Linked DNA regions of Homo sapiens: regions 1, 2 and 4 are each linked to region 3. The links come from fine-mapping of genetic effects on gene expression. A gene starts in region 3. Each other region holds a variant in brackets. All regions are shown on one strand. Distances are from middle to middle.

Evidence for each region.
Region 1: its variant is fine-mapped to the expression of STK33 in tibial nerve (GTEx, PIP above 0.99).
Region 2: its variant is fine-mapped to the expression of STK33 in thyroid (GTEx, PIP above 0.99).
Region 4: its variant is fine-mapped to the expression of STK33 in whole blood (TOPMed, PIP above 0.99).

What each region holds. Positions count from the first base shown.
Region 1 is chr11:8,524,192-8,532,344 of GRCh38, forward strand. The region is part of intron 1 of STK33 (serine/threonine kinase 33); the gene reads right to left. Among named protein-coding and RNA genes, the nearest start is that of STK33, 66 kb to the right of the region's middle. The variant T/C (reference allele first, on the strand shown) is at 4,145.
Region 2 is chr11:8,556,454-8,564,606 of GRCh38, forward strand. All of the region lies in intron 1 of STK33 (serine/threonine kinase 33), which reads right to left. Among named protein-coding and RNA genes, the nearest start is that of STK33, 34 kb to the right of the region's middle. The variant G/A (reference allele first, on the strand shown) is at 3,677.
Region 3 is chr11:8,589,288-8,597,440 of GRCh38, forward strand. STK33 (serine/threonine kinase 33) reads right to left here and starts at 4,941. Exons shown (of 16, transcript NM_001352389.2): 1 at 4,796-4,941. RefSeq lists a silencer at 4,504-4,763.
Region 4 is chr11:8,375,278-8,383,430 of GRCh38, forward strand. It overlaps a transcript of STK33 not described here. Among named protein-coding and RNA genes, the nearest start is that of LMO1, 120 kb to the left of the region's middle. The variant CA/C (reference allele first, on the strand shown) is at 4,240.

The sequences.
Region 1 (8,153 bases), 65 kb before region 3:
GTCCTCTGCCTAGGAAAATCAGAGACCCTTATTCACATGTTTATCTGCTGACCTTCCCTCCACTATTGTCCTATGACCCTGCCAAATCCCCCTCTCCGAGAAACACCCAAGAACGATCAATAAATACTATAAAATAAATAAATAAATAAAAAACGGGAAAAAATATTTGCAGACCATATATTTGATAACATATTAACATCTAAATTATATAAGGAACTCTAACAAGTCAGTAGAAAAAATAAAATAATCTGATTTTTAAACAGGTAAAGGAATTAAATAGGCTTTTATCAAAAGAAGACATACAAATAGCCTACAATATATGAAAATGTGCTCAACATCACTAATTATCCAGGAAATGCAAATCAAAACCATGATGAACTATCTTAACACAATGTTTAAGGTTAGAAGTGGTTTGAGTTTTTATTCAGAAGTTTGATAATGTTTTTGTGACCAGAAATATGCCATAATACCATAAATATGCCATATTTCACTCTTATTTAAATCAATTCACCTATTTTGGTAAAATTGGTTTTGTTTTACTTCATTCACTTAAAGTCAAAGTTTCCAAGAACCTATCAATGACATTAAGTAAGGACTTACTGTACTTAAAAATTTGCCAATATGGTAGATCTTATGTTAAATATTTGCATCACAAAAATAATAATAATAGTAATAATAAAGATGCCAAGAGGAAACTTTTTGAGGGGATAGATATGTTTATAGCATACACTGCAGTGATGGTTTCACAGCTGTACACTTATCTCCAAATTTATTAAGTTGTACATATTAAATATGTACAGCTGTTTGTATGTCAACTATACCTAAAAAAACTGGTTTTTTAATGTGAAAGAATAAATCTAACAAAAAGATAGAACTTTAAGCAGAAAACTGTAAAGCGTTTTGAATAATATAAAAGAATATGTAAACAAATGGAAGGACATACTATGTTCATAGATTGAAAGATTCAGTATTTTTTAAATGAAGCTCCCCCTAAGCTGATCTAGGGATTCTATAAGATCCCAATCAAAACTCCAATAGGTGTGTATATGCATATGTGTTGAACAAGCTAATTACAAAATGTATATGGTAATGCAAACTGTCAAGGATAGCCAAAGACAATCTTAAAGAAGAAAAAGTGGGAGGACTTTCTCAATCAGCTATCAGCACTTACTTAGCTGTATTAGCACATATAGTATTGGTTTAAGAACAGCCAAACAGATGAAATATATAGAACAGTGACACAGAAACAGACTCATGTATATAGTCACTTGATTTAAAACAAAGATGACATTGCAAAGCAGTGAAAAAATTATAGCCTCTTGAATAAATGGTGGTGAGAAAATTACATATTCATATGAAAGGAAACCCGAATTCTATTCTACACCATACATTAATATTAATTTCAGGCGGATTATAAATGTAAACCTGAAAGGCAAAACAATAAAGCTTCCAAAAGAAAACACTAGAAGATGCTTTATGACCCTGGGGTACAAAAAGATTTCTTAAATAAAATGCAAAGACGATAAAGCCTTAAGAATTTCTGTTCATCAAAGATACCATTAAGAGAGTGAAAGGAAAAGCCAAAATGGGAAATGACATTTGCAACACGTGATAAAGAGCTTATATTTAGAATGTATAAAAACTTCCTACAAATTAATTTCAAAAGATAGGCAACATAACAGAAAACTGGAAGAAATAAAAAACTGCAAGGGGGCCTTCACAAAAGAGGATACCCAAATGCCAATAAACATAATAAAAAGTGCTAATCTCATTAGCAGTCAGGGAAAAGCATGTTAAAATCACCATAGGATACCACTACACACCCACTCACACAACTAAAGTTATAAAGGCTAGCAAAAGCAAATGTTGGCAAAGAAGCAGAAAAAAGAGAACTCGCATACACTACTACTTAAGAAAGTTATTTAGGCCAGGCATGGTGGCTCACGCCTGTAATCCCAGTACTTTGGGAGGCCGAGGGAGGAAGTTCATGAAGTCAAGAGATTGAGACCATTCTGGCCAACGTGGTAAAACCCCGTCTCTAAAAATACAAAAATTAGCTGGTCATGGTGTCAAGCCTGTAATCCCAGCTACTCGGGAGGCTGAGGCAGGAGAATCGCTTGAACCCAGGAGGCAGAGGTTGCAATGAGCCGAGATCGCACCACTGTACTCCAGCCTGGGCAACAGAGGGAAACTCGATCTCAAAAAAAAAAAAGAAAGTTATTTGGTACAACTGCTTTGGAAGACTATTTAGCATTATCTATTATCTATTAAAGTTAAATATACGCATATCTTATAACTCAAAAATTTCTCTCTTAAGTATGTTCCCAACTTAAAAGTCTGCAGATGTGCTCCAAAATACATGTACCTGAATGTTCAGAGCAGGATAATTCATAGCAATAAAAACCTGGAGACAACCCAAATGGCCATCAACAGCTGGATGAATACGATGGTATATTCATTCAATGGCTTATTATTCTGCATGTTTGAAAACAACTAGTTATCAAAATTATCAAATACCTAGGTATAAATCTAATGCAAGATGTGTAAGATATATACACTAAAAACACACACACACACAAAAAGAAAATAACTAGTTATATGTGACATCATTGATGAATATTACAAATGATACTGAGCAAAAAAAAAAAACCCAGACAAAAATATAGATACTGTAAGATTCTGTTTATATGTTAAAAAAAAAAGGTAAAACTAGAGACACATACCTAGATGGAAAAAAGAAAACAGGTAATTATTGTAAAAGTAAAGACAGAGATTTCCTCTTTTTTTTTTTTTTTTTGAGATTGAGTCTCACTCTTGTTGCCCAGGCTGGCGTGCAATGACATAATCTCGGCTCACTGCAAACTCCGCCTCCGGGGTTCATGCAATTCTCCTGCCTCAGCCTGGGATTACAGGTGCCCGCCACAATGCCCAGCTAACATATATATATATATAGTATTTTTCATAGGAACGGACGGGTTTTCACCATCTTGGCCAGGCTGGTCTAGAAGTCCTGACCTCAAATGATCCGCCCACCTTGACCTCCCAAAGTGCTGGGCTTACAGGCATGAGCAATTGTGCCCAGCCAAATTCTAAAAGATAGAGGGAAAGAAAGCTATACAAACTGGCTGGGCCCTGAGGCAGGGCTTCTGGCATGTTGACAATGTTCTATTATTGATCTGAGTGATGGGTTACATGAGTGTTCGCTTTGTGATAAATCACCAACCTGTACATTTTTGCTTTGTACATTTCTCTGTTTGCTGTTATGTTTCACAAGAAGTGAGTTTTTGTTTTTTTTTTTAACAGTATCCCAAGGTATTTCCCCAGGAAGAAAAGAGGGTTGGGGTGGAAGACATAAGTAGGCACAGTTCACAAGTAAGCTGTTCCCATGGCAAGAACTTGGAATTAAACAAAATACTGTGCTTTTCTGAGGGTTTATTTATACAAAACAATACATAGTAAACAGATGGTGGCTCTTAGACCAGAGCAAGATAACCAGAAAAATTATTATATCTAAGAAGAAGTTTCCATAGACATGAGGCATAGAGAAGAAACAGTAAAATCACAGAAGCAACCACAATAGCAATGACTATATGAGTATTTTCCAGAGGAAACAGCCCATTTACCAAAACACTTCCACTACTACATTTCCTCTGACAAGGTAATCCCTATGGTGCTATCATAGAAATAGATGCAAAAGGCAACTATAGATTATCTAATTAAATATTTGAATTATATAAATTATCCCCATTCTTATTTCATATTCCATACACAACCTTCTAGTTGTAATGTGTTTTTTCATGATGTTTACCTACAGGGAGAGAATCTACTAGTCAGGTCCATGTAAGTATAATATGCATTGGGTAGTGTTATACATGGATTTCTCACGAGCTTTGTTAGTATTGAGAAAGAAAAGTGGCTCAGAGCAGTCTGAGGAATGCGAGTTATGCAAAAGGTATCAAGCCCAGAGAGTCAGGAGCATGAGACTTCCCTCAGGTTCCCTGTACCCATGCCTGCAAGTAATTGTTTAAAGGCATTTTGTTTTTTCTTTCCTTTCCTATAGTTTCCAGACTAGCTGATAAAGTATCTAAAAAGTTACCGTAAGTTGTACAATTGTCCTTCACCATTATCCTCATATTCCTGGAAC[T/C]TGTGATACAAAAAACAATGTATAGCCAAACAACTTATGTTATTTTAATGAACCAATGTAAATGATTGGTAAACAATTTAGGAACTGCTCCCTAACTTCTTGTTTTCCCACTGGTAACTGCTGCTAATCCAAGCATATACTCAGGGCAACTTCAATCTATAGCTCCTGAGCTTCAGTTTTCAACCATGGCCCAAATATATTAATTTTGCCTCAGTTTCTTCCCTTAGGTCAATGATATCTATCAGTAATCTTGAACCCAAATATTCTGAGATAAAGACAAGATAATATTTATATTCCTTTAAGACTAAAGACCAAAACCTGGAACATTAGTCAATTCACGACAGTTATGAAAAAGACCTCTTGGCCTTCTGTGGCCATATCCCTTTGTATCATGTGCACACGCTTTTCACCTCAAAGCTTTTACGGTGAATTCTGTGGTATGGCTGGAGTATACAGTGCCAGTAGGTGAGTCCAAAAAAGGCGCATGGAAGACAAACCAAAATGTTTGCATATGAGCCTATTTTAGTTTATTTAAGGAAATAACATGTGCCAGGTAGTGTACTGAACACTTGCTATAAATTACAATATCATTTAATCTTTACAATACCACTATGTGAGTATTACTAGTGTTATCATTATCCCTGTTTTTTATAATAGCATCATTATCCATTTTTCAGATGAGGAAACTAAGTCAGTATGGCTATATGGCTTGCCCAAGGTCACATACGTAGTAAACAGCGAAACTAGGGTTTGAATCCCAACAGTCTGATTCCGTCTTGTTCTTAACCATTAAACTGTTTTCTCTGCTACAGTCTAAAACTATTTAGTATAAGAGGCCATCTATTCATCAATAATATTTACAGTGTAGAGACAAAGATTCTAGGAACATGGCAGCCTGAAAACATAATTGCTGATGCTTCTCCTAACTCCAAACTAACTCTTTTACTTCCTGGGCCAGAGGCAGGTAGGGCCTAGAGAGTGTGAGTAGAACCTCTGCTCTTATGGGGTCACAGAGAAAGCTAGTGTAAGACAAATTTTTCTCTGCTAAGTCAAAAGATATACTGAGGTCTAGTGGCAAAGAGCCATAGGACAAGATTCAGAATTCAAGGTTCCTAGGAAAAGCCTGGTCTTGAGAGATTTATGGGCCCCTCTGGTAGACATAATAATGCCTCCCTCCCCCTAAGATATCCAAAAAGCTCACCCTCTGACCCTGGGAATATGTTTCCTTACATGGCAAAAAGCTGTTGTTGATGTGATTATCTGGTGGGCCCTAAGTAATCACAAGGATCCCTATAAGGAGGGAAAAAAAGGGCAAAGGTAATAGTAGGAGATGTTATAATAGGAGTCTCAGAGTGATACAGTATGAGAAAGACTCGTTAAAGATGAAAAAAAGGGACCATAAGCCATGGATCGCAGGTGGCTTCTAGAAGCTGAGAAAGGCAAGGCAATGCATTTTCTTCAAAAGCCCCGAGGAAGAACACAGGCATGCTGACACCTTCATTTTGGCCCAGTGAAACTGATTTCAGACTTCTGACCTCCAAAACAATAAGATAATACATTCATATTGTTTTAAGCCACTAAGTTTGTGGTAATTAGTTACGTGAGCAAGAGAAAACTAGTATATTCCCCCAAAAAACAGACAGAGCTGGATGTTTTTAAATGAACATGCTGGTCTTCCTGGCCCAGATGAGCTGGTGCGAGAGGGGGCGGAAAAGGTGTATGAAGTCCTGCCTGCTCCTTAGGATGGAAGAGAGGCTTTGCATCTACAAAGATGAGAATGTGGAGAGCATCACACAGTGTCCTGAAATCGAATAAGAATGTGTAGTATCAGTGCAAAATAAGTAATAAAAACCTAATAATAGTCTGAGGCAAAAATTACCACACTGGTTTTTTTTACACTTAGGTATTAAGGAAGGAGGTATTAAGCATTAAGGTCAGACATGGGGAGATAGCGGACAAAAGAGCATTTAAATGTCTCTGGTGGGGAAACAGGAAGTAAAAGCACTCTAAAATAAAAGGAAATTTACTGGTAAGGGAAGAAGAGAGGGTCCTGGTGGGGGAAATAGTTGAAATTTTATTTTCTTGTACCAGTGGAGAAATGTGTATTTATTACACATGTTGGAAAAATAGGGGGAAAAAAATCTACCACCACCACCACCAAGAATAAAAAAGAAAAAATTATTTGGAAATTTAGAAACACTTTCAAAATGCTGTGATAAAAAGAATATAAAAACTGAAATTACAAACAGAAGACAAGGAAGAGGAAAATGTTTCATAGCAAACTTAATAGGATGCCGTGAAAGCCAAACTTAAAGGAAACCTTATAGCTTCAAGCTTCAAAAGCATTTCTCTTTTATTTTATTTTATTTTTTGAGACAGACTCTTGCTCTGTCGCCCAGGCTGGAGGGCAGTGGTGCAATCTCGGCTCACTGCAACCTCTGCCGCCCAGGTTCAAGCAATTCTCGTGCCTCAGCCTCTCTGAGTTGCTGGGACCACAGGCGCCTGCCACCAAGCCCAGCTAATTTTTCTATTTTTAGTAGAGACAGGGTTTTGCCATGTTGGCCAGGCTCGTCTTGAGCTCCTGACCTCAGATGATCCGCCCACCTCAGTCTCCCAAAGTGTTAGGATTACAGGCGCGAGCCACCACACCCAGCCTCAAAAGCATTTTTTATGAGGCAAGAAAGATGAAAAAGAAAATTAGTGCTCACTTTTAGCAACTAGGATAGGAACAATTAAATACATAGAAAGTAGGAAGAAAAAAATGAATAAAGGTAAAGCTTCAATTAATAAAACTTAAACATCTCAAATTGTAAAATGAAGAAATCTAAAAATTGATCTTTGAAATGATTAATAAAATAAATACCCCCCAACTTCGCTTAAAGGAAACTGAGAGAAAAATATATAAATGATTAGGAGTATAAAAAATTCATAAATACAGGTAAGAAAGATACTAAGGCAATTATAAGACAATAGTACTTGCAATTTTGCGTGCTATTTACAAATGCTGCATAACAAACTACCCTAAAACTTAGTGGTTTAAAACAATTATTTTATTATGCTCACAGATGCTTTAGGTCAAGAATTCAGACAGGGCTCAGCTAGGCTGGGTTTGTCATGTGATTACGTTGAGATGACAGCTGGGTTGGAGCTCTGTGAAAGCTCAAATTACACTGTTTATCCAAGATGCCAACCAGCTGTCAACAGATGCTGGCGGATGGCAGGAGCTGAGCTGGGAGCTTAGCTTGGCCTATCAATGGGGATGCTCACATATGGGCTCTCCAGCATGGAAGACCCAGACTTCTTACATGGCAGTTGAGTTCCCCAGAGTGAGCCTCCCACAGAACCGGGAAAAAGCTGCATAGCCTTTTCTGAACCAGCCTTGGAAGTCAGCATCACTTCTGCCATCTTCCAGTGGTTGAAGCAGTCATAAGCCTGCCTAGACCCAAGGAAAGTAGGCATAAACTCACATCTTGATAGGAATGTCAAAAATTTTGCAGAAATGTTTTAAAACCGCCACAGCAACAAATATGAAGCCTAGAGGAAATAATTTTCTAGCAAAATGTAAATTCCCAATTATGACCCAAGAAGTAAAAAACTTGGATAGATCAAATGCCACAGAAGAGATAAGAAAAGTGATTAAAGATCAGCCATTAAAATAAATGCATCAGGCAGTTTCACAGCTGGGGTATATGAAACTTTTAAAGAAGAGAAGTGTAATATTATTTAAACCAGGGACTTTCCAATTTTAGTGAGCCTCAAAATAACCTCACCAGCTAATAAACACACATTCCTGGGCCCCATCCCAGACTGATTCTGTAAGTTCGGAGTACAGAACAGGGATCTACATTTGTAACATGCACACATGTGATGTTACCATCACTTATTCACACAATTCACTTTGAGTAGCACTGATTTAAACCAGGAGTTAGCAAACTATGGCCCAGTGGCCAAATCTGGCCTGTCGCTTGCTTTTATAAATAAAGTTTTATTGGAATACATACAGGTTTAT
Region 2 (8,153 bases), 33 kb before region 3:
TTATATAAGCATCTAAAAAGGTCATAAGTACTATAAAATGATATCACAAAACCTCTTGCCTCTGCCTGGAAATCCTTCCACCCCCTTTCCCTTCCAGTAAACTCCTTATCCTGTAGACTTCAGTTTAAATGTCACTTCTTCAGAAAGGCTTTTTTTAAATCACTTATCCAAATTGGGTCCCCTTGTTTTTCTCTTTCAAAGGAACTTGTACACTTTCTTCATAGCACTTATCACAGTTTATAAGTATATATTTTGGTCACTAATTAATTAAAGTCTATTTCCCCCACTAGACTGTGAGGGGAAAGACTGTATTTTTGCTCATCATTATATTCTCCAGAGCCTAAAATGATGTAACACATATTAGGCACCTAACAAATATTTGTTCTATGAAGAATGAATGAATGAAGAAGAGAAGAACAGATTTTAGGGTCACCATAGTAATGCCCCTCTTTGCTAGATGCACTTGCTATTGACTAAGATACTTTCTTTCAAAGAGAAAATTAAAAGAAACCTTAAACCAGGCATGGTGTCTCATGCCTGTAATCCCAACACTTTGGGAGGCCAAAGCAGGAGGATCACTTGAGCCCAGGGGTTCAAGACCAGCCTGGGCAACATAGTGAGACCTCATCTCTATAAAAAATAAACAAATTAGCTGGCCATCATGGTGCATGCCTGTGGTCCCAGCTACTTGGGAGGCTGAGGTAGGAGGATCACTGGAGCCTGGGAGGTCAAGGCGGCAGTGAGCCTTGATTGTGCCACTGCACTCCACCGTAGGCAACAGAGGGGGACCTTGTGGGGAAGGGAAGGGGAGGGGAGGGGAGGGGAGGGGAGGGGAGGAGAGAAGAGGAGAGGGAGGAGGAGGAGAAAAGAAAGAGGGAGGCAAGGAGGGAGGGAGGAAAGAAGGATGGAAGGAAGGAAGGAAGGAAGGAAAAAAGGAGGGGAAAAAGGAAGTCAGGAAGTCTTAAATTTCAACTTAAAGCTGAATTCTTACGTGCCAAAATCAGAATAAAAACCTGTACTTACACAAGGAAAACCTTAAAGCAAATACTCAAGTCAAAATATACATTCCTATCTCTCATATTTTTACAGAAATAATTCCTAGTGCAACTACTAAGTGAACTAGAATAAGGAACGGAACCTGGACACAAGAAAGCATTATAAGTCAGATGTAAAGAAGGCAATTATAGACTTGTAACTCCTTTATTCATGTATATCATGTTAGAACCTCAAAAAGGAACTTCAGCATTCAATGAAAGATTTTTACTTCAACCTATATCATCACTGGAGTAGAAAAAAACCCTCAAAAAAGATAACTAAGCTTTGAAAAAAAAAAAGTAATTCACTTCCAAATAATAAATACTTGGTTTTCAATCACATGCTGTTTATACCTATGTACTTACTTCATGCCACAAACTTGGTGCAAGGCTTTCTTCATATAATAATAAACATGGACGATTAGCAATGTAATGAACCTTAAGTCACAGAAGTCTAGAGAAGTCCAAAGGAGTTCAACATGAGGCATTTGGGACCTTATCTCAAGATGCAGCCCTTCACAAAAATTTAACTTAGAAAAATCACTCAATTCACTAGGACACATGAAGCCCTAACCAACTGCCAACAAGGAACTAGAGAAGTTGGTTTAAAATCAGAAATGTTGAGCTAACTTGGTACAATGGATTACCTGCAAAAAAAGGAAAAATAAGATTTCCATCATTCATTTGTTTGCAGGGAGCTGTTTAACTATTGCAAATCAGATGCACTACATAAACTTAAAATGAAAAGGAAAAAAGACCAGCATAAATTTGTTCAAAGAGATATAGTCAGTTTCACTATAAGGAAATACCTACATTCCTAAAAATCACTACACTATGCAAAAATGGCACAAACAAGGACTTACGGGGGAAATGTAGCTAGGGACACAAAACTCCAAATCTTTGTCAGTGATACACACACACACACACACACACACACACGAAACCTAATAAAAAATCATAGCATTTTTGTATATGTTAAATGGTTAGGAAACATAAATATATGGCACCTTACCTTGAAAAAAACCTGAAGTTTACTTATAGATATAGGCATTTGAAAGACTGTAGTTTTTGAATTAATCAAGGGTGCCAGAAAGAAGGTTATCTGAAATCAGAAGGAAAGGTGTGACACCAGATGCGGGTGGGTGTGGCTCATAACTTGTGGTGAACTGAGGTAGCTGGTAGATATTCCAGGTATGTACATGTGTCCGTTTTGTGTGTTCCTGCTGGGCTCGGTTCAACTATGTGCTGTATTCTGTGTTCACCTGGTGTTTCTTGCTGACAAAAATCATGGATAACACAAACATGAAATTCACTTATGCTCAAATCGCTTCCTAATATATCAATGGCATTGCAGCAAATTCACGTTTTCAAAACAAGTGTTAATATAGCACAACTGGCTGTGCGGGTATTCAAATTCAAAAAGCTAATGCCAACTGGATACTGCACTCATTTCCCATTCCTCAAAATGTCTTGAGCCCAATGAAATCACAAGATTTTGAAGAATCACAGACTCTCTAATAGAAAACAGCCACAATTTCTAAATAGATTGGTATAATTCACATGGCCAAACCCTAGAAAATGTAGAGGTCCACTTGCCTCCATGAAACTACAACCTCCTTCATAAAATTGCTGCCTCTAAAGCAACAAAACATAAATAGCACTGGTAAATACAGCATTTGATCAAATCTAGTTTTTGCTCAGGAATACAGGATCTTCTCCTGTCATCATGAGCATTATCACTAATATACCTTCTCACATATCCCCAACACCTTCAGCAGCCATATTATGACAACCAAAGCACAAAGCCAACAAAATGGCATAGCCAAGTTCACAAACCTTAGCATTTTTTCCTGCCCCTCATGCTAGTTTCTAGGTTGGTGGCATGACAATCATGTAATAAAAACAGTGTTCACTAACAGACTTCATTTCATCTGGTTTTAATTAAGAAAATATAACCTCTAGGAGAAATGTCTGAACCGCTATTTTTAGCATTTATCAAGTATTATCTGTTCCACAAGCTAAGCTCAGTTTAGTACGTCATGCAAAGTAGGAGCTTCCTAAATCTTTGTTGAACAAACATTAGTTGAACCTACTTGATTTGTTTTACTATTCTACCCCATAATTTTATTCCCAGAATATTAAATTCTATTTTCAAAAGCAACATAGTCACTACCGGTTAAAATATTTTTGTTTGCTTTTAATTACTATAAAATCAGAAAATAATTGCTGTAATAAAAACTGAAAGAGTCCAGAGGGTATAAAATGAAAATAAGAGTCCAGAGCATCTCCATTCTCCATCTCACAGATAATCATTTCCAATGGTTCTGTGTAACATTCTAGAAATTTTCTTTGCATATACACAGCCTAAGTATAAATCACATATGGTTGTAAATAAGCTCATACTATACCTATTCTCAGTAACTTACCCTTTTTCTAAATATTATAGCCTAACCATTTTTTCATTATCCATATATATATTTACACCTCTTTTGTTTTAATGGCTATATAATATTCCAATATATATAAGCATTCTAAATTATTTAACAAGTCCATATCAATAGTCAAGTAAATTGCTTCCAAATGGTTTCTATTACAAATGATGCTATATGCAATAACCTTTTACATATATCTTTGTATACTAA[G/A]ATGAATATATTTGTAGAATACACTCTTAGCAGTAGCACTGCAGAGATAAATGTGTGAGCATTTATTATTTTGATAAATGTCAGACTGCCCTCAAGAAAGGATATGAGAGTGCATTTTACCACATTCTGTCATTAGATATTTTTGAACTTTTTCATCTTTCTCAATTTGATAAATGAAAAATAGCATCTTATTTTAATTTCTACCTCCTTAATTATAAATGAGGCTAAGTATTTTTTCAAATTTTTTTTCTGTAAAATATCTGTTCATACTGATTTTTTCTCATCTTTTTCTTGTTGACTTATCAGTGATCCCTAAATATTAATGATATCAATCCTCCTTCTGTCAAACATATTGCAATTATTCTCCCCCACTTGGGTATTTGTTCATTGATTCTTATCATGGTGATTTTGTCATGTAAAAGCTTTTAGTTTTTATGAAATCAAATAATTAATCTTTTCTTTTGTGGTCACTAGGTTGAGAGTTATGCTTAGAAAGGCCTTCTCTGCCCCAAGATTATAAAATTATCTGCCCATGTTTTTGCCTTAAAATAATAATAAACAATTGGTAATTTTTACTGAATGCTTACTTCAGGCCAGGCACTGTTCTAAGTACCTGACACACATTATTGTATTTAATCTTCACAACAACCCTAGTAGGTTAGTAGTATCATTACCTCCAAGACACAGATGAAGATTCTACAGCTACTTATGAGAATTAAACTCATCTGAGAATGCATAGCTGCTATGTGGCAGTGCCTAGATTTCAACTGAGACTAGCAGATTCATCAACTACAGGCTGTTATCTACTGACTCTCTCTCCACGAAGATAAATGGGAGTTCAAACTCTTTTACAAACCTCTACCTATTCTCCCTTCCCCTCTTTATATCTGTTACATAAATCCTTTATTCAACATTAATTTTAGAGCCTTTACATTTTCTTCTGTTTTCATACAACGCAGTTATTCAGACTTTACTTGGTCTATTTTTAAATAGATTCCATATGCCCTATCAACCCCTTCCTATCTCTGCTTCTTCATTCCCAAGTTCTTTTTATTTATCACTTAGATGATTAATTTTACTCATGAGGCATTTCTTCAGGGACTAGGTCCTTGAATGTTTGAGAATATTGGTTGTTATCTTTATGCATAAATAAGAGCTTGACCAGGTATTAAATCTGTGGGTCACACTATTCCCTGCCTACACACATTCCACCAAAACTCAGACACTGTTCAACTGCCTCCTGGCTTTGGCTATTACCATGATGTCAGAAGCCAGTCTCATTTTCCCCCTTTCGGTGACTTGCTTTTCCTGTCTGGATGCTTGGCGATTCTTTTTTTTAATCTTGAAGCACAAGTAACTTTACTGTTACATACTTATTTGATATTGATCATCCTGTTTCAGTTCTTTTAGAATTCTGTGTTCTTTGAATCTGCAGATTACTAATCCGTTTAATCTCTGGTGGTCTTTTCCCCATGATATATTTGAAATTATTGTCCATTCGTTCTACTCTCTATCAGGCACACCAATAACACATATGTTGGATCTTCTCTGCCTGTATTATCTACATATCATACAGAATTCCTAGTTGAAAGCCTATGGCATAAGCCTAACTTGAAATAGTTTAGATAAAAAGAATTTATCAGAAAGACAATGCAGTACCTCATATAACTTTAGGAAATGTATAAAGTGTAACTGAGCCTGAGGGATAACTGGAACCACAGACTTGAACGCCACCAGGACTGCTTATCTCAACTAGGGCTATTTTTCTTTTGTCTCTTATTTCTGCTTCAATGTGTTGGCTTGGCTGTCAGTATCATAGACAGACCAATTTCTCCCACAAGGCACAGAACATGGCTGCCAACAGCTATAAAGCCTCACATCCTATGACTGACCACCAGAGAGGGATTGCCTTGCTTTCCTTAACTCCAATTTCTAAAAATTCTATGTTCCCCTTCAATTTCTTTAAGTGAATACAGATGTATTTTTCAAGAATTTGTTTACTAAAATAATTCTTAATCTGAAATGTACTTCATTCTGCATGCTTAGAGTAAAGCAGTTAACTAGCTTTGGTTTGCTAATTTATTAGTTATTCATTTATGTTCATTTGATTCAGTTAACTGCTACATAGCTCATTGTCATTTCTTCTTTCTTCCTCTCCACTTCACTGCAGGTTAGAAATCAAAAGATACTGTCCTCTTGTCTCTCTCTCCTCTCTCTCTCTCTTTCTTTCTCTCTGTCTCCATTTTGAGATATTGCACTGGCTTCCTTGGGGATTTTCCAGGTTTTCCCATGGCGTGTCCCAACACGAAAACCTTACAGGATGGGATACTCATGGCCCCCCACTTTCAGTGAAATCTGCACTCTGTTTACAGTCTAAACAGTGTATAACAGAATTTAGCATCCCCTTTGATTTCATCCATATTTCATTATACTCTTAGATTCTAGTCCATAGCTAGGAACTGAGCCATTTCCTAGTTTCACAGATTTTTTTTTTGTTTGCTTTTCATTCTATTTGTTGATTCTCAATTAGTTTCATGATAAGGAATATGGTTAGTATGGCTTTACTTTTCTGAATATCTTCTGCATTCTTAGAAGTAATAGTTACTATTACAATTCTACTTTGGAAAACTTAAAGTTCATTCATTCATCAAATATGCATAGGATATTAACTATCTGCAAGGCACTTTGGGAGGCACTGAAGATACAGCAATGAAGAAGACAGAAATAGTTCCTACCCTCTTGGAGCTTACATTATAGTGGGGAAAACAGACTATTACTATTTTTAAAAATCACAAGAATAGCAGATCAATAAGTAAGTAAAGGGGTAGCTGTTTAAGCAGAGATTAGAGTCCCCAAGTGTTATGGATTAGATTATTCTAGCTAAAGAATCTCTGAGTTGCTTCTCAGTTCAAGGAGAGGCAAAAGTCTCCTTGAAGCTCACTTTATTTTGTGAAGAGTCACTTAAGTCGCCTCCCATAGTGACAGATTGCAAAAATGAGTAAGTACCCTGTATCTGGGTAAGTAGGGCCTTCCTTGGGCATACAACCTAGAAATAACTATCTTTTTTCTTGGGATACCCATAGGCCTTCTGGGAGTGTTCCTTGGGATTCAAAGTTAGCTGTTGGAGTAAACCTAACATTGCCCTGACCAAAATCTTCTGGCAAGAAGGGATACAAATGGCACCAAAAGAATACTCACTAGGCAGGAGCTGTCTGGGTTGGTGTCCCAAGCTCAATCCAGCCCAGGGGATCATGAGGAAGGGTGACTCTAACCCAGCCTATAACCACCATGACACAAAATTATGCTTTGAGAAACAATGACTAAGTGTATGAACGTAAGTCTGTAGGTATATGAATGTAAAATATAACTTCTACATCTTGGGCAGGTCATCATAAATAATCAGTCCCTTTGGGCTGTGCAGGACCATTCTTCAATAGCAACAGTCTTTATCAGCAACAGCTATATTGTACTTTTCGGATTTCAAGTTCACCCTCCACATGGTACATGAGACTAACCCTTTGGAACCCCCAGTTCTTACATAATACACAAAGTGAAGGAAGAGTCCTCAAGAGTGAGAACTGAATTTCCTGGTAATAAAAACACCTGGAAAATAATGTCACTAACTTAATAATTACAAGAGGTATGACTATATTGGGATTTCCCAGAAAGAGTAACACAAGCAGTGACCTGAAGGACAGCAATCAGTTGGCCAGGGAAAGTGAGGAATGCATTCCAAAAAGAGGAGCCAGGAAGAAACCTGGCAGATTTGAGGAAATTAAAAGGGACCAGTATGGCTGAACTGTGGGGAAAAAAAAGAGCTACATTGCTGTCAGTCAAAGATGGTGAGGTAGACAAGGAGCAATATCTATAGGGCCTCATAAGGTATGTTAAAGATCTGAGGCTCTATCCTACAAGCATGCAAATAAACACTTTTTCAGGAGCGGAGTGGCATAATCAGATTTTTATTTGTAAAATATGACTTTAGGGGCAGGATGTAAGAGAATCAAGAGTGTAAAGTAGCAGGCAGGCCAGCTGGAAAGCTATCTGAAGAAGATGGATGCTAACAGGTGGAAGTAAGTATATAGATTTGGTTGTAGGGAATTTAGGAAATTCCCATCAAATGGCTTCCTTCTCTATGAAATAGCAAATAGAAGAGACAGATGACTTTGGGCATTGATGGATTAAAAACAGAGATGAATAAATTTAATCCCAAAGCCTTATGGAAGAAAGCAGGCACTCTGGCCTTACGCAATTCTGCTGAGCCTGCTCTGCTGAGAAGAGTTTGCCCCTTGTGAATCTGGTGTTACTTTATACTGCTAGGTTAAGAATTCTGTATTATTTTGTCAAAATAAATCAAAGTTTCACCCAAGAGATAAAAAGATATAGAAAGAGAACTTTCCATTTGCTTGCCCTTGTATAGCATGTGAATGTACTCTTCCTAAGTATCACCTTCAAGCAACTTCAGAAGAAAAGACTG
Region 3 (8,153 bases):
TACACAAAATGTACCATACAATGGAATTCTATTTGGTCATAAAAAGGAATAAAGTACTGATACATACTACAACAGAAATGAACTTTGAAAACATCATGCTAAGGGAAAGAAGTCAGATGCAAAAGGCCACATATTGTATAATTCCATTTATATAAAATTTCCATAACAGGCAAATCTACAGATAAAGACTGATGTTTGCCAGGGGCTCAGGGAAAGGGAGAACAAGGCATGACTGCTATTGGATGTGAGGATTCTTCCTGAGGGTGATAAAAATGTTCTGGAATTAAATAGTAGTTATGATTGCTAGTGTCACTACTATTTAACTAGTGTGCACTTTAAAAGGGTGAATTTTATGGTATGTAAATTATATCTCAATAAAAAAAGTGAGGTGCAACTATAAAAAGGAGCCAAGTTTACATATTATATGTACCATCAAAGAGATATGACAGAAAAGCAATAAAGAAGTTAACTTGAAAATCACTGCTGGATATTGGTGTTTACTTTTATAATAACAAATATGAAAAATATTGAATTTTATTGCCATAAACTGAAAACCAAAATAAAGAAGATTGAGAGAAAAATTAATTGGATTTCCATGAAAAATATCCAAGGATAAATATTTGCTTTCTTCCCAATATTTCAGCTGTTTGGAAGCTGAGCTCCTTAGAGCAAAGATAAGAGCCTCGATGTTAGATTTGCTAGCAGCAAACAAACTTGAAAGAATTCAAGTCTAAGAACCTGAGCCTCAGATGCACTGCCTTTGGTAAATGGTAAATGGATTTTCTCCCAGTGAGCTCTGTGGTAGACAAGCATTCCACCATGATAATGACAAAGTAACAGAGTAGAACTTTCAATAACCAACATCTCAACCTTGGAGACTGCATTAACATTTTACGTAAGGCTTTTTTATGAGTCTCTGAATTAATATGTGTGAGTCCAAATGGCCAGTTTTTCCAAATAATCATCAGCTCATGTTAAGAATACTGAATCACAAGCAAACTTTTTACACATACACTATAAAAGTAAACATATAATACAATATTCTAGAACTGTGCCTGGCATATGATCAGCACCCCATAAATATTTATTGAATGAATGTTTATAATAGTCAATATTGTTTACTAAATAACTTTATCAAAAATAAGGATAATAGTATTCCTAAGTGAACTTATCTTTATCAATAGAAAATTGTTTTTTCTTAATTTATTTCTAATGTAAACCACATCCTTACTGAACTTCACTGACAAGTCAATGGTTAAGAAAGATAATTAGTCCATATATGTAGAAAGGACATTCTAATTATTAAAATTACTGCCCCTCACCTTGTAAACTTTTTAAAATAAAACAACTTCAAGTCAATAAAACTGTGGGATTTGTGAGGTTAGTAATTTCTTATGCACTTACAATTTATTTTAGTTAATAAACTAAGAAAATATATATTAAAGCTTAAAAATAAGATGCCCATTCTTCACATTCTAGAGCTCTAAGATAAATCCAAACAAAACACAGTTAGCCTCACTCATATATACTGGAGTTCAGCAGGAAAGGAAATTCTTTCTGAATCGCATCTTAAGGCATACCAATTTAACAATGCCAAAAAAGTCAGCAATTAATTTTATATTGCATTTTCCATTTTGTAAGTCTCTTTTTAAAAACAGGGAAGTTATTTCTCAGTATTTAACAACTATAGGTGTTTGAAGTACTACATAGTATCATCAGATGAATAAAAGTAGAAAATAGCTCCAGAGAACACATCTTCTCTTTCAGAAGGATACTTCTTCTGTAAGTCTCTAAGGATAAGCTTCTACAACGTGTGACAGATAAGTCAATGGTTGAAACAGCCATCAGTTCAAACAACTGTCAGAGACAGCCTTCCTAAATCTCCCTTACAGCAGTATAAGCTCTTTTCTGCTCCTTGATTCAAGGACACATGAAGAAGACACGAGTACCCACCTTTGTATCATCCTCTTTTAGATTTTTTATTGGACATCACACTACTCAGCTTTCTTGTACTTATTTTCTTTACCTCTTGATTTGCTAATATTACAAAATAACATTTTTAAAGAAAATGCAGATAGGTAGCTGGTCTCTTCATGGGAAGGACTTTCTAAGCGTAAAAGCAATGGATCATAAAGGAAAAGATTAACAAGCAGACAACATAAAATTGTTTTAATTTCTATAAATCATAAGCCATCATAAATGAAAGGGCAATTGTGGGGAAGATGCCCCAAATGACGAAGGGTTAATACTCTCACTATAACAAGAGTTCACATGGTTCACTGTATGGCCAAGACAGTGCCCCCAGCATTCCCTCATCCTCCATACAGGAAACCGCAATGTCTCTGCAAAAAAAGAGGTTGCAGCTTCTCTCCTCCAGCTTTGAAAATTACCTTTGTAGGGACATGGATGAAACTGGAAACCATCATTCTCCGCAAACTATCGCAAGGACAAAAAACCAAACACTGCATATTCTCACTCATAGGTGGGAATTGAAGAATGAGAACACATGGACACAGGAAGGGAAACATCACACACCAGGGACTGTTGTGGGGTGGGGGGGAGTGGGGAGGGATAGCATTAGGAGATATACCTAATGCTAAATGACGAGTTAATGGGTGCAGCACACCAACATGGCACATGTATACATATGGAACTAACCTGCATGTTGTGCACATGTACCCTAAAACTTAAAGTATAATAATAATAAAATTAAAAAAAAAATTACTCTGCCTTTCCTTGTCTGTCTTGGTCTTTGCCTCCTACCTGGATGCTCTCTTTCTTCCAAGCCCTGTTTGACTCAAAGTTCAGAAAAACAAGCAATCAGCCCAGTCTTGATTCCAGTTTTTGCCCCAGGAAACAGACTATGAAACAGTTTTCTGCCTTGCCCTGTAGCCTGCAGGGAAGTAACAACTCGCCCCAGGCTCCAGGGATAACTTATTCAACTAATTCCAGCCAAAGCCCAGCATAGTGGTTCCTGCCTGGGCTGGGGAAGATAAAAATCAAACAATTAAACAACTGGTAAGAAAAAACTAAGACTCCAATACAAAAACCATCAAAAAGCTTTTGCTAATAGCTAACAATAAGATTTCACTTAAAACATATTAATAATGACAGATGTGAGTTAAAATAAGGAGGTGCCATTTTTATCTGTGAAATTAGCAAAGTTTTTAAAATAATAATGCTAATATGGGTGTCATAAAACTGACGGTGGCAATGTAAATTGGCATAATCTTTCTGAAAAACAGTATGGCAATGTTTCGATGTTTTGAGAGCATTCACAATGTTCCTGCCCTTTGACCTCCCTATAATTTCATTTTTGGGAACTGTTTTTTTATTTTTTTTTGAGACAGGGTCTCACTCCATTGCCCAGGCTGGAATGCAGTGGCAAGTTCACTGCAGCCTCGAACTCTCAAAAATATCTTGGTCTGGATGGTCATGTACATGGTCACCCAACTTTTTGGCCACATTAAGAGTTTTGTCTTTATTCTAAGAATAATGAGAAGCCATGATGGATTTTGAGCTAGAGGAGGTTGGGGGGTAGCATAATCAAATTTTAGTTGTGAAAATACTACTCCTGCTGCAGGGCAAAGAATGGATGGGAATATTGAAAGGAAAGGATAAATACCTTTAGATTAGTTAAGAGGCTACTACTGGACAACAGATCATGGTAGATTGGTCTAGGGTAATAGTAGCAGAGACAGAGATACTCAAATGGATTTGAGATTTGGTTTGAAGATAAAATGAATAGAACTTGATGATTGTTTGGATATGGAAAGGAAGAAAGTGCGAGGTGTCAAGGATGAGGCCAAGATTTCTGATTTGCAAACTAGAGGTTGGTATGACCCATTGAGATAGCAACAGAGATTTACACGAGCTAAAAATTTAAATGCGCGATATATCTGCATATCCATCACTGTCTAAAGGCACGGGCCTGGAGAACAAGGAAAGAGTTTGGGTTCAAAACTTGTTGATGTTCCTTTCCATTCACAGAGCCCTCTTTCAAGGCAGGACTATCCTATTTTCTGGTTGGATATTGGAGTCATTTGGTGGTCAGGCAAAAAAGAAGGTCCTTCTTAGCTGGTGATATGGGACGGGGAGCACCAGACCACTCTTAGCATGCAAATATCCCTTACTAACGCTCAAGTGCTTTTCACATGTACTGTTCACAAAACAGCTTCACATATAGGTTCACTGAAACCCACGACCTTGTGAGAAATTATAATCTACATTTAGGAAGCTGAGGGAGAGTTCTTAAATTACCTGTCCACAGAGCCAGTACGGGGCTGCTTTATGTCATCCTTTCACCTCCTATGTGCAGCCTCTAGGTGCAAGAGACTATCTTAAGGGCAACAGGAAACCTACCATATAATGGGGTCCCACTAGGTACCAGGCTCTAGCAGTTTAAAAAAAAGAAACACAACTTCAGAACTTCTAAGGATGTTTCCCACACACTTACCCCACAGTAAGTTCGCTTCTAAACTTTCAAAAAGTTTCACGTCCCAAGATGGGGTGAAGGTGAGACGGTGGAGATGAACCGGGGCAGACAGAGACCACCCCAAATACCGGACCCGGGGGAAATGGGGTACCAACGGCTGGGCCCCAGGAGACACTCGGAGGGGTCCGCGGGCTCGGCCCGGTCCCTCCGCTGGGGGGTTACCAGCCGGCCGGCAGCGAGATACCCAGAGGCCCGTTTTTCCACCGCGTTGCCATAGCAACGGCCTGGCCGGCTGCGCCCCGGGCCGCCCGCCCCATCCCGCGGGCCCGCCCTGAGCCAGTGACTCCAGGGACCACTCACCGCGGCCGGCGGACTGGCGGGTCTCCGACAGGTGCGCACACTCGGCGCAGGCTGTCGCTGAGCCCGGAATTCTGCACCGGGAGAAACTTTTCAGCCCGCAGAGCAACCGCAGGGCAGTGGACGGGGGCCGCGCGAGGACAAACAGCGGCGGCGGGTGCAAAGCCCCTTCTCCAAGCCGCGGGGTTGGCCGGGAGGTGCCGGCTGCACAACGGCGCCCACGTGACCCAGGTGCAGCCCCAGGCGCGCCCAAGGGCAGCTCGCCTTAGAGAAGGACCTAAAACCCCGTCTGGGGCACAGAGGAGCAGCCACGTGTTACGTAAAATAAAGCTTTGTAGCAGGAATATCACAGTACTGAGGTGATTGATGCTCAGGCCACTCTTCTCACTCGGAGTCAAGCCCATCAAGCCCCAGCCAGTTGGAGCAAGGGCTGCAAGCCTTGAACTGCAGTGAGTGGGGAGCTGGCCTAAAAAGACGGGAAAATGCTGGGGGGAGGGTGTTTGTCCCCACGCAGGGGCTGAGAAGACTCCTGACAGATCAAATGACGATTCTCAGGGATATGTTTTAGCTACAAACCTATGAGAACCATCTGAATGCCTGCCCCATGCAACAGAGGGTCCAGCTGTATGCTAATGTATTTACTGGCCTGAACTAAGAATGGCTTCTGTGGTCCTGGGTCCTACTCTCTAGCAGTGTGGGGAAGAAATTCAACTCTCCTAATACTAGCCTAATTATTTGAGGCAGATGTTCTCTAAAATTAGCTGATTGATAGCCAGTAACTTGATACGGCAGGTGGATTCATTGTATTGCTTCGGGGGAGGCTACATTTGGCAACTAGTTCATCCAGTCCTTTTCATCAAAAAACTCAAAATGGTCATAATGGGTGACTGGTAACTTCAAACTTCAAACCACTGGACTAGGCCGGGCGCAGTGGCTCACACCGATAATCTCAGCACTTTGGGAGGCCAAGGCAGGAGGATTGCTAGAACCCAGAAGTTCAAGACCAGCCTGGGTAACACTGGGAGGCCCCCATCTCTACAAAATTAAAAACTACCTGGCCACCAAAGGGCTGCAAGAAACCTACCATATAATGACGTCCTACTAGGTACCAGGCTCTAGGAGATTAAAAAAGATCTCCTAGGATAATCTCCCGCATCTTAAGGTCCTTAATCACATCTGTAAAGTGCCCTTTGCATATAAGGTAACATATTCACAGGTTCCAGCCTGGGCGACATAGCCAGCCCTGCCTCTAAAAACAAAAGCAACCACTGGACTGCGTTTTGCCCTGGATTAAACCAGACCACCAAAAAACTGTATGTTTGTACCATTTTGTCTTCACCGTTGGCAACATTGCATGAACCAAGTCATGTTTAGCACTATGCCATTTGCTTATATTAAGAGATGCTGTTTAAAAAAATTCATGATACCTCTGCATTTACTAGAGGGATTACTTTAAGAATGTTGTTTATTACATCTTTGTAGCAGAATCCTACCAGCTTGTCCAGCGCAGAGCTTTTCAAACTTTTTTGAGCACAATCCATCAAAATAAATATGTTTTACATTATCACTCAATACACAGGTACTCATATATTTAGTAAATGAAACAAGTTTTATAAAACATTACCCACATCACATGCTATGCACCCTGATACTTTTAATCTCTTTTTAAGGCTAGTTTCTACCCACTAATGGTTTCTTGACCTTCAATGCAAGTTGCATTTCAAAAACAGCAGTATAACCAGATGTCTTTTTCTGGAAACTAGACCTGGATCCTCAGACAAGGTAACCAGGCCACCTGACTACAGTTGATTGCTCCAATAGTAGGGACCTGACTCAAGATAAGGCAATCATATCCCTCTCCCAGGAATTTGGAATTAGGACAGAGAGATTGCAATCTTTCTCTAGGAAGCTAATGTGGAAACACAGAACATCTTTAAAATAGAAAATCAGAAGCCTTCAACAGACATACTTTCCCACCATGTGGCCAAAAGCAATGTAGAAAGCCAGGCTGCAGGGAAAATGGGAAAAGAAGAGGAAGGCTGAAAAAGATATACAGAAAGAAGAGACCAAAAGAGTTCTGACGGCTTTCCATTCCTAGTCATGGTATTTTCTGAAATGAATTGTATTCCTGCCTTTGAATTCCATATAGTATTTCCAACTCTTTGGAGTTGGGAGGAGGGGCCTACCACACTAATATAATCACCTATATGCCCCGTATAGGAGGGTCAATGCAAGAAATATATTTCAATCCTGAGTGCCAGAAAAGAACACTTTTTCCCTAGAGAAACTGACATGACTTTTTTTAATAAAGAAAGCAGACCATGAGATTGATCACATTTCCCTTTCACCTTGACTTCAGGAAGATAGCACCCAAATTTGCAACTCAATTTTAATAACTTTGTCAAACTACAGTTTGCATATCTGCATCACAACTTTCTCCTGTTCTCTTTCATTTCCCCTCATTCCTACTTTTATCTTTTTGTTGTACTGACTATTATTTTAAACTGCTTCAAATATTTTGCACTTGCTGTTTCCTCTTTCTGTAAGGCTCTGCCCCTGTATCTCCTAAAGCCTGGTTCCTTCTCATCATTCAGATCTCAGCTCACTTGCCACCTCCTCAGAGAAGCCTTCCTTGATCTTCCTACCTAAAATAGCCCCACCCCACAGTCTATCACATCACCCTGCTTTGTTGTCTCAGAGCACTTAACACCATCTAAAACAAGCTCTTTATTTTCCCTGTTTCCTCACCAGAAGCTAAGCTCCAAGACAGCAGGGACCTGGCCTCTTTGTTTATTGCTTGTTCCTAGTGCCTGGGAACAGTGCCTGGAACTTAGTAGCTAGTTAGTAAACATTATGGAGTTAATAAATAAAAGAATTAATAGAAGAAAGGAGGGGAGGGAGGGAGGCAGAGAGGGGAGGGGAGGGTTGAAGGAAAGAGATTTTGTTGAACATGGTAAGATATAGATGGATAGGTAAATAGGTGGATAGATAGACTGACAAATAGACAAATATTCATTTCCAGTGTGCAAATGTCACTAATATTTATAGAGAGGAACCAGAGGAACTATACAAGAAAGTAAAATATACTCGATTCCCTAAAATATATACAGAAAGATCCTAGGTTTCCTTGGGTAACTCTTGACATAATGCCTTAGACCATTTTTTTTAAGCATTCAAGTCGCTCAAGGCAGCTACATTAAATATTAGGGCTAGTAACCATAGCTGAAGTCATCAATTCTCAGTGAGATAATGGATTGCAACACCATGACCACTAACATGACAAATTCTTAACACTGCCAAGGAACTCAGTCTATTCTAGGGGCCGTTACTATACAACAATCTGCTCTCATTCTATCCCTGT
Region 4 (8,153 bases), 210 kb before region 3:
TGTACATCTTTCTAACAACTAGCATTTAAGGCAGGCATCCATATGGGTTGAAATGGGAAACATTTCTATCCCATGGCTACCTCAGAGGCAGGAATTACTCACCACTTCCTCCCCCCATTGCTTGACAGAAAGAAACTTATTATTGGTGATATACTCCTGGAACTTGTGTTAATTTAAGTAACTGGCCATATATGGTCAAGGTAAAAATAATAGAACTACTCAATGATTTTCAAATTCACAGATAATTGCTTTAGGATGTGTTTAAGCTTATATTCCTTAATAGAATGTAGGCAGTTCACACACGGTGCCAGCAGTGAGTTGTCTGCAACTTCCTTGTTTGCAAATTCTTTCCCTAGAAAGTGGAGGCAGATCAGTGAGCCATGGGGGTGGTTTCCCCCATGCTGTTTTCATGATAGTGAGTTCTTACGAGATCTGATGGTTTTATAGAGGGCTCTTACCCCTTCACTTGGCACTTCTCCTTCCTGCCACCTTGTAAAGAAGGTGCCTTGCTTCCCCTTTGCCTTCTGCCACGATTGTAAGTTTCCTGAGGCCTCTCCAGCCATGTGGAACTGTGAGTCAATTAAGCCTCTTTCCTTCATAAAGGAAAGGGCAAATTGGAAAAGAGTCTCTGGCAGTTCTTTATAGTAGTGTGAAAATGGACTAATACAAGGAGTCCTAGCCAGGAGAGTTGGGAAACTCAGCTTGGAGAATACAGGCTAATCTCCAGGCACTCAGGCTACTTAGATTTCCAGACATACAACAGGGCAAATGCATTCCTTTGCTTCCTTCCAGAGCCAGCCACCCAGGGAATATTCCAAAGAGGCTCCAGGGGAATGAGCGGGGTCAGAGCTGTGATTCCAGCCAGCCCAAGCATCACTGAGCGACAGCCACCAGGGCAAGGCTCTGGGAAACAGGGATCTCGGTTGATCCTTGGGAACCTGGGTCCTGGGCAGGAGGGGGCAGAAGTGACTATGACTTTATGTGTGTCTAAGCATGTCACGGGGGCAAGCTCAAATCTGTCCCCTGCAGCAGTGAGGGACAGAAGCTGCACACACGTGTGTTCACATGTGCATGTTGGGTGGGGCTGGGTGGAGGGTATTTAATACCATTAGCCAAAGCCAGGAGAAGGCAGACGGCTTAAGACAGAATTTGGTTCTCCGAGCTCTCCTTCCCCTCTTCTCTCCTGTGCACTTTCTTCATCAGGTCTGATCTCTGCAAGTGGAGAGGCATTTGCAATACAGTCTTGTCCTGGCAGGCTTTGATTCTTTTTTCTTTTTTTTTTTTAGATGGAGTCTCACTCTGTCACCAGGCTGGAGTGCAGTGGCATGATCTCAGCTCACTGCAACTTCTGCCTCCCGGGTTCAAGTGATTCCCCTGCCTCAGCCTCCTGAGTAGCTGGGACTACAGGCACCAGCCACCATGCCTGGCCAGTTTTTTGTATTTTTAGTAGAGATGGGTTTCACCATGTTGGCCAGGATGGTCTTGATCTCCTAATCTCGTGATCCTCCCACATCAGCCTCCCAAAGTGCTGGGATTACAGGCATGAGCCACCATGCCCGGCCGATTCTGCATTTCTTTTAAGTGAGATCACATCTTCCAGCTGCCATACTTTGGCTCCAACCATCCCTAGTATAGTCTGAAACCTGAAGTCCTCAACAGTCTGACTGGGCAGGAAAGGCTCCACTGTAGAAGCCTTCGTAACCTCCCAGCTTCAGAAGCATAATCTGAAGCTGTTTTCCTAGTATCACCTCTCTCCTCCCCAGTGTCCTATATCCTGCCCATGTTGGTCCATTTATCAAAACCACTAACTCGACAGTGCCCCTTTGCACCTTGTACAATCCTCCATTTTCCTTCAACCAAGACACAGCCAAAGCAAAAACTAGAAGCTAGAGATGATGTTCTCATTAATCGAGAGTGACCAGTAGATACCCCTATAGTTGTGGGGTTGATGCTGCTGGATCCATTGCCTAGGCAGGGCCATTGCAGACCCCTTAATCTTCACCTTTGTCTAAAATAAATCCCCCCTAAAAACTGGCCAATTAAAACACACTTCAAAATGGGATATATCATATAAACATAATTAAAATAAAAATCATATGATCATTTCAATAGATGCAGAAAAAGTATTCAACAAAATACAGCATCCTTTATGATAAAAACTCTCAACAAACTAGCCATTGAAGGGACTTACCCCAAAATAATAAAAGCCATGTATGACAGACCCACAGCACTCCATCATACTGAATGGGGAAAAGGTGAAACATTCCCCCTGAGAACTGGTACAGGACAAAGATGCCCACTTTCACCACTTCTATTCAATATAGTACTGGAAGTCCTAGCTAGAGCAATCAGGCAAGAGAAAGAAAGAGCAAATTGGAAAAGAGGAGGTCAAACTACAGCTGTTTACCAATTATATGATCATATACCTAGAAAACCCTGAAGACTCCTCCAAAAGATTCCAAGATTTGATAAATAAATTCAGTAAAGTCTCAGGTAATAAAATCAATGTACACAAATCAGTAGCACTGCTTTATACCACCAAGTTGAGAATCAAATCAAGAACTTAATCCCTTTTACAACAGCTGCAAAAAATAAAATACCTAGGAATATACTTAACCAAGGAGGTAAAAGATCCCTACAAAGAGAACTACAAAAACTGCTGAAAGAAACCATAGGTGACACAAACAACTAGAAACACATCCCAAGCTCATGAACTAGAAGAGTCAATATCATGAAAATGACCATACTGCCTGTATTAGTCCATTCTTGGGCTACTATGAAGAAATACTCAAGACTGGGTAATTTATAAAGGAAAGAGGTTTAATTGACTCACCATTCCGCAGGGCTAGGGAGGCCTCAGTAAACTTACAATCATGATGGAAGGAGAAGCAAATGCATCCTTCTTCACATGGCAGCAGCAGGGAGAAGTTCAGAGCGAAGTGGGGGGAAGCCCCTTAAAAAACCATCAGATCTCTTCAAGCCTGTAATCCCAGCACTTCGGGAGGCCGAGGTGGGTGGATCACCTGAAGTCGGGAGTTTGAGACCAGCCTGACCAACATGGAGAAACCCCGTCTCTAATAAAAACACAAAATTAGCTGGGCATGGTGGTGCATGCCTGTAATCCCATCTACTCGGGAGGCTGAGGCAGGAGAATCGCTTGAACCTGGGAGGCAGAGGTTGCAGTGAGTCAAGATCGCACCATTGCACTCCAGCCTGGGCAACAAGAGTGAAACTCCATCTCAAAAAACAGACAAACAAACAAACAAAAACAACCATCAGATCTCATGAGAACTCACTCACCATCACGAGAACAGCATGAGAATAAATGCCCTCATGATTCAATTACCTCCCACTGGGTCCCTCTCACAACATGTGGGGATTATGGGAACTATAATTCAAGATGAGGTTTGAGTGGGGACACAGCCAAACTATATCACTGCTGAAAGTAAGCTACAGATTCAGTGCAATTCCTATCCTAACACCAACATCTTTTTTCACAGAGTTAGAAAAAAAAAATCCTAAAATTCACATGGAACCAAAAAAGTCCCAAGTACCCAAAGCAATCCTAAGCAAAAAGAACAAATCTGGAGGCATCACATTACCAGACTTCAAATTATACTACAAGGCTATGGTTACCAAAACAGCGTGGTACCAGTATAAAAGTAGACACGTAGACCAATGCAACAGAAAAGAGAACACAGAAATAAAGCTAAATACTTAAAACCAACTGGTCTTCAACAATACACACAAAAACATAAATTGGGGAAAGGAGACCCTATCTAATAAATAGTGCTGGGAAAACTGGCTAGCCATATGTAGAACAATGAAACTGGATCCCTATCTCTCACCTTATATAAAAATCAACTCAAGACGGATCAAAAGACTTGAATCTAAGACCTGAAACCATAAAAACTCAAGAAGATAACCTAGGAAAAACTCTCCTGCACATTGGCCTAGGCAAATAATTCATAACTAAGAACCCAAAGTAAATGCAACAAAAACAAAAATAAATAAATGGGACCTAATTAAACTAAAAGGCTTCTGCACAGCAGAAGAAATAATCATCAGAGTAAACAGACAACCCACAGAAGGGGAGAAAATATTAGCAAACTATGCATCAAACGAAGAACTAATATCTAGAATCTACAAATAACTCAAACAGATTAGCAAGAAAAAAACAAATAATCTTATCAAAAAGTAGGAAAAGACATGAACAGACATTTCTCAAAGGAAGATATA[CA/C]AATGGCCAACAAACATGAAAAAATGCTCAACATCACTAATCAACAGGGAAATGCAAATTAGAACCACAATGAGGTACCACATTACTCTTGAAGAATGCCCTTTTTTTAAAAATTAACTTTTAAGTTCAGGGTTACATGTGCAGGTTTGTGATATAGGTAAACTTGTGTCATGGGCGCTTTGTTGTACAGATTATTTTGTCACTTCAATATTAAGCCTAGTACCCATTAGTTATTTTTTCTGATCCTCTCCCTCCACCCACCCTTCACCCTCTGATAGGCCCCCGTGTCTGTGGTTCCCCTCTTTGTGCTATCCATAAGTCCTCATCATTTAACTCCCACTTATAAGTGAGGACATGTGGTATTTGGTTTTCTGTTCCTGTGTTAGTTTGCCAAGGATAATGGCCTCCAGCTCCATCCATATTCCTGCAAAGGACGTGACCTCATTTATTTTTGTGGCTCCATAGTATTCCATGGTGTTTATATACCACATTTTCTTTATCCATTCTACCAACGATGGGCATTTAGGTTGATTCCATGTCTTTTCTATTGTGAATAATCCTGCAATGAACATACACGTGCATGTGTCTTTATGACAGAAAAATTTATATTCCTTTGGGTATATACCCAGTAATGGGATTGCTGGGTTGAATGGTATTTGTGTTTTTGGGTCTTTGAGGAATCACCACACTGTTTTCCACAATGGTTGAACTAATGTATACTCCCACCAACAGTATATGAGCCTTAAGAACGGCCATTATTGGCCAGGCACAGTGGTTCATGCCTGTAGTCCCAGCACTTTGAGAGGCCGAGATGGGTGGATTGCTTGAGTTCAGGACTTCAAGACCAGCCTGGCCAACATGGTGAAACCTCGTCTCTACTAAAAATACAAAAAATAGCTTGGCATGGTCATGGGCACCTGTAATCCCAGCTACTCAGGAGGCTGAGGCAGGAGAATCACTTGAAACCGGGAGGCAGAGGTTGCAGCGAGCCGAGATCATGCCATTGCACTCCAGCCTGGTTGACAAGAGTGAAACTCCTTCTCAAAAAAAAAAAAAAAAATGGCTGTTATTAAAAAGTCAAAAAAGTGGGCATGTGGTGAAAAGGGAACAATTATACACTGCTGGTTGGAATGTAAATTAGTACGGCCCCTATGGAAAACAGTATGGAGATTTCACAAAGAACTAAAAGTAGATCTACCATTCAATTCAATACTGGGTATCTACCCAAAGGAAAATAAATCATTGTATCAAAAAGACACCTGCACATGTATGTTTATTGCAGGACAATTCACAATTGCAAAGATACGGAACCAACCTAAGTGCCCATCAACCAATGAGTGCATTTTAAAAATGTGGTATATATACACCGTGGCATATACACACTACTATACACACATATATACACACTACTCAGCCATCAAAAAGAATGAAATAATGTCTTTTGCAGCAATTTGGATGGAGCTGGAGGCCACTATTCCAAGTAAAGGAACTCAGGAATGGAAAATCAAATACCCTATGTCCTCACTTACAGGTGGGAGCTAAGATATGGATATGCAAAGGCACACAGAGTGGTATAATGGACTATGGAGATTCAGAAGGAGTGCTGGGTGGCGAAGGATAAAAACCTACATATTGGGTACAATGTACACTACTCGGGTGATGGGTGCACTCAAATCTCAGATTTCATCACTGTACAATTCATCCGTGTAACCAAAAACCACTTGTACCCCACAAGCTATTAAAATAAAAAAAATTAAGAAAACACACCTCATTTTAAATCTAACTTGCAAAGGCAGTTGTGGGGACTGCTACATAATTAGTAAGGGGTATTCCAAGTAATCTGTCAGCCGAGAGTCTCCTGGCTGCCCCTTCCCCACTCCATTGTGGCTAAGGGTTAGGGCTCCTGCTGTTGACCCACGGAGAATGAAAGCAGGGACAGCTGCTGGGGCTGTGAGTGACTAAGCCACAAGAGCCTGTGCCTGCCCTGATCCCCAAATAAGGATCCCACAGGCGGAAGGTTTATCCCACAGTGAACATCCTGAATGCAGAAACATGAGAGATCACCTAGCACCCAGCACCCCACTTGTAGCCGACACCCCACCTGGCTTCTGGTCTAGTGAGCACCGAGCAGCTGGAACACCCTGTCCCTGGGCCTTGCTGTACAGTGAGGGGCTGGACTACCTCTCACCCTTTACACCTCCAACGATGCCTGTCATTATTTCTTTTGTGAGCTCTGTGTTTTGAAATATTTTATTACCCAAAAACTTTAGGTGAGTGTGGTCTGAGCCATTTCACTATAGGCAGATACGCTTTTTCCATTATGTTCCTTGCAATTTGGAAATAGCCTACAGATCCCTTTAGTTTGGGGCCCAGATAGGAAACAGACACGTTGCATGTCAGGATTACCTGGGGAGCTTCTGAGACCCAGAAGGGAAGGGCCAGAGCAATCTCTGCTGAGACCTCCTTCCCACCCATATCCCTCTGTAACCACAGTATGCACCGTGCCTCTCCCACACCACACCTCTTCCCAACTCCTGCCTCGCCCCCACCCCCACATCCTACGGCTTATGTACCAGCACACCCTTGCCACCCACATCCACTCCACTCCACGAGGTCAGTCCACATGAAGGGACATCCTGCAGCGAGGAACATCGGAGGACCGCAGGGCCCGGCTGCTGTGTCACGCTACATTGGGGTGACACTTGGGATTTGGGCCTGGCGCTCATCACACTGGACATGTGGCATCTTGCTGGGCAGCTGCCGCCACAGCCCCTGGCTGACCAGAGGCTGCACAGTCGCTGATGGTAGCTGGGGAGCAGAAGCCCTGGAAATGAAAGTGAGAGGCAAGGACATCAGAAATGATGCATCTGAGCCTCTGCCTCAGGCAAAGAGCCACAAGTGGACAAGGACATGTGTGAACACTCCTGGGAATTCTCAGAGATGTTCAGGGGAGGGCGCTCAGAGTCTTCCCTGCAAAAGACTCAGATTCCTGATAGTAGCATGGGGAGAGAGGGCTCAGAGCCATTCCATTTAGGCAAAGAAGTTAATGTGCCCCAGTGCCTGTGGGCGGGAGGCGTGGGGACATGCAGCTTACACAGACACAGACCACACCTGCGCTCACCCTGTTTGGAGGGTCCAGGACAGGTCCTGTGTGAGGTTGCCAAACCTCTCCTGTTTCCCACCGCCACCCCAGCAGGAGCTAAGCCACTAAGGCATCCTCTGGCAAGCAGGCCTGTAATTCGGTTTGTGCCTTCTTCCCTCCCCATATATCTCAGTGGATAATTAGCAAGACCGATACTTAAGGAAAATGAGTGTGTCTTCCTGGATAATCTCAGGGCTCTGTGACTCAGACCCAACCCCAGAGCGCTGACTCAACACACTCTCTGTTGCTCCCCACAGGCAACACACTGCAAAAAGCCTCTTTAGCAGTCACTGAAAGTCCACCACAAGGACACTGATAGGAAAATAACCATGCTTCAGGGACACATTGTCATTAAAGCCTGTCCTGGTAAACTCAAACTAGATTGTCCACGAATCCCTGTTAACAGGAACACAATGGACTGCAGTGACAGACGCACAGTGTTCCGAGGACTGGGGGTGACGGGCCACACTTGGAGGTCTGACTTCAATTTTGGAAAAAGACCCAGATGAACTAGAATGAAGGGCCTAGAAACATGTCACTAAGGAAGAGTCCAAGAGACATGGGGATGTTTAGCCTGAAGAAGGCACACAGGGCTGTGGGAATTACCTTCAAACCCAAGGGGCTGGATGTGGCAGCTGGAGAGGCCTTTAAAGAGCTCCAGAAGGGCCAGTGAGCAGCAGGTGTCAGATGATAGGAAGAATTTTCTCACACTTAGGTGTTTCCAGAGTGGAATTCATCTGCCTTGGGAGGTAGGGAGCCCCCAACCCCAGG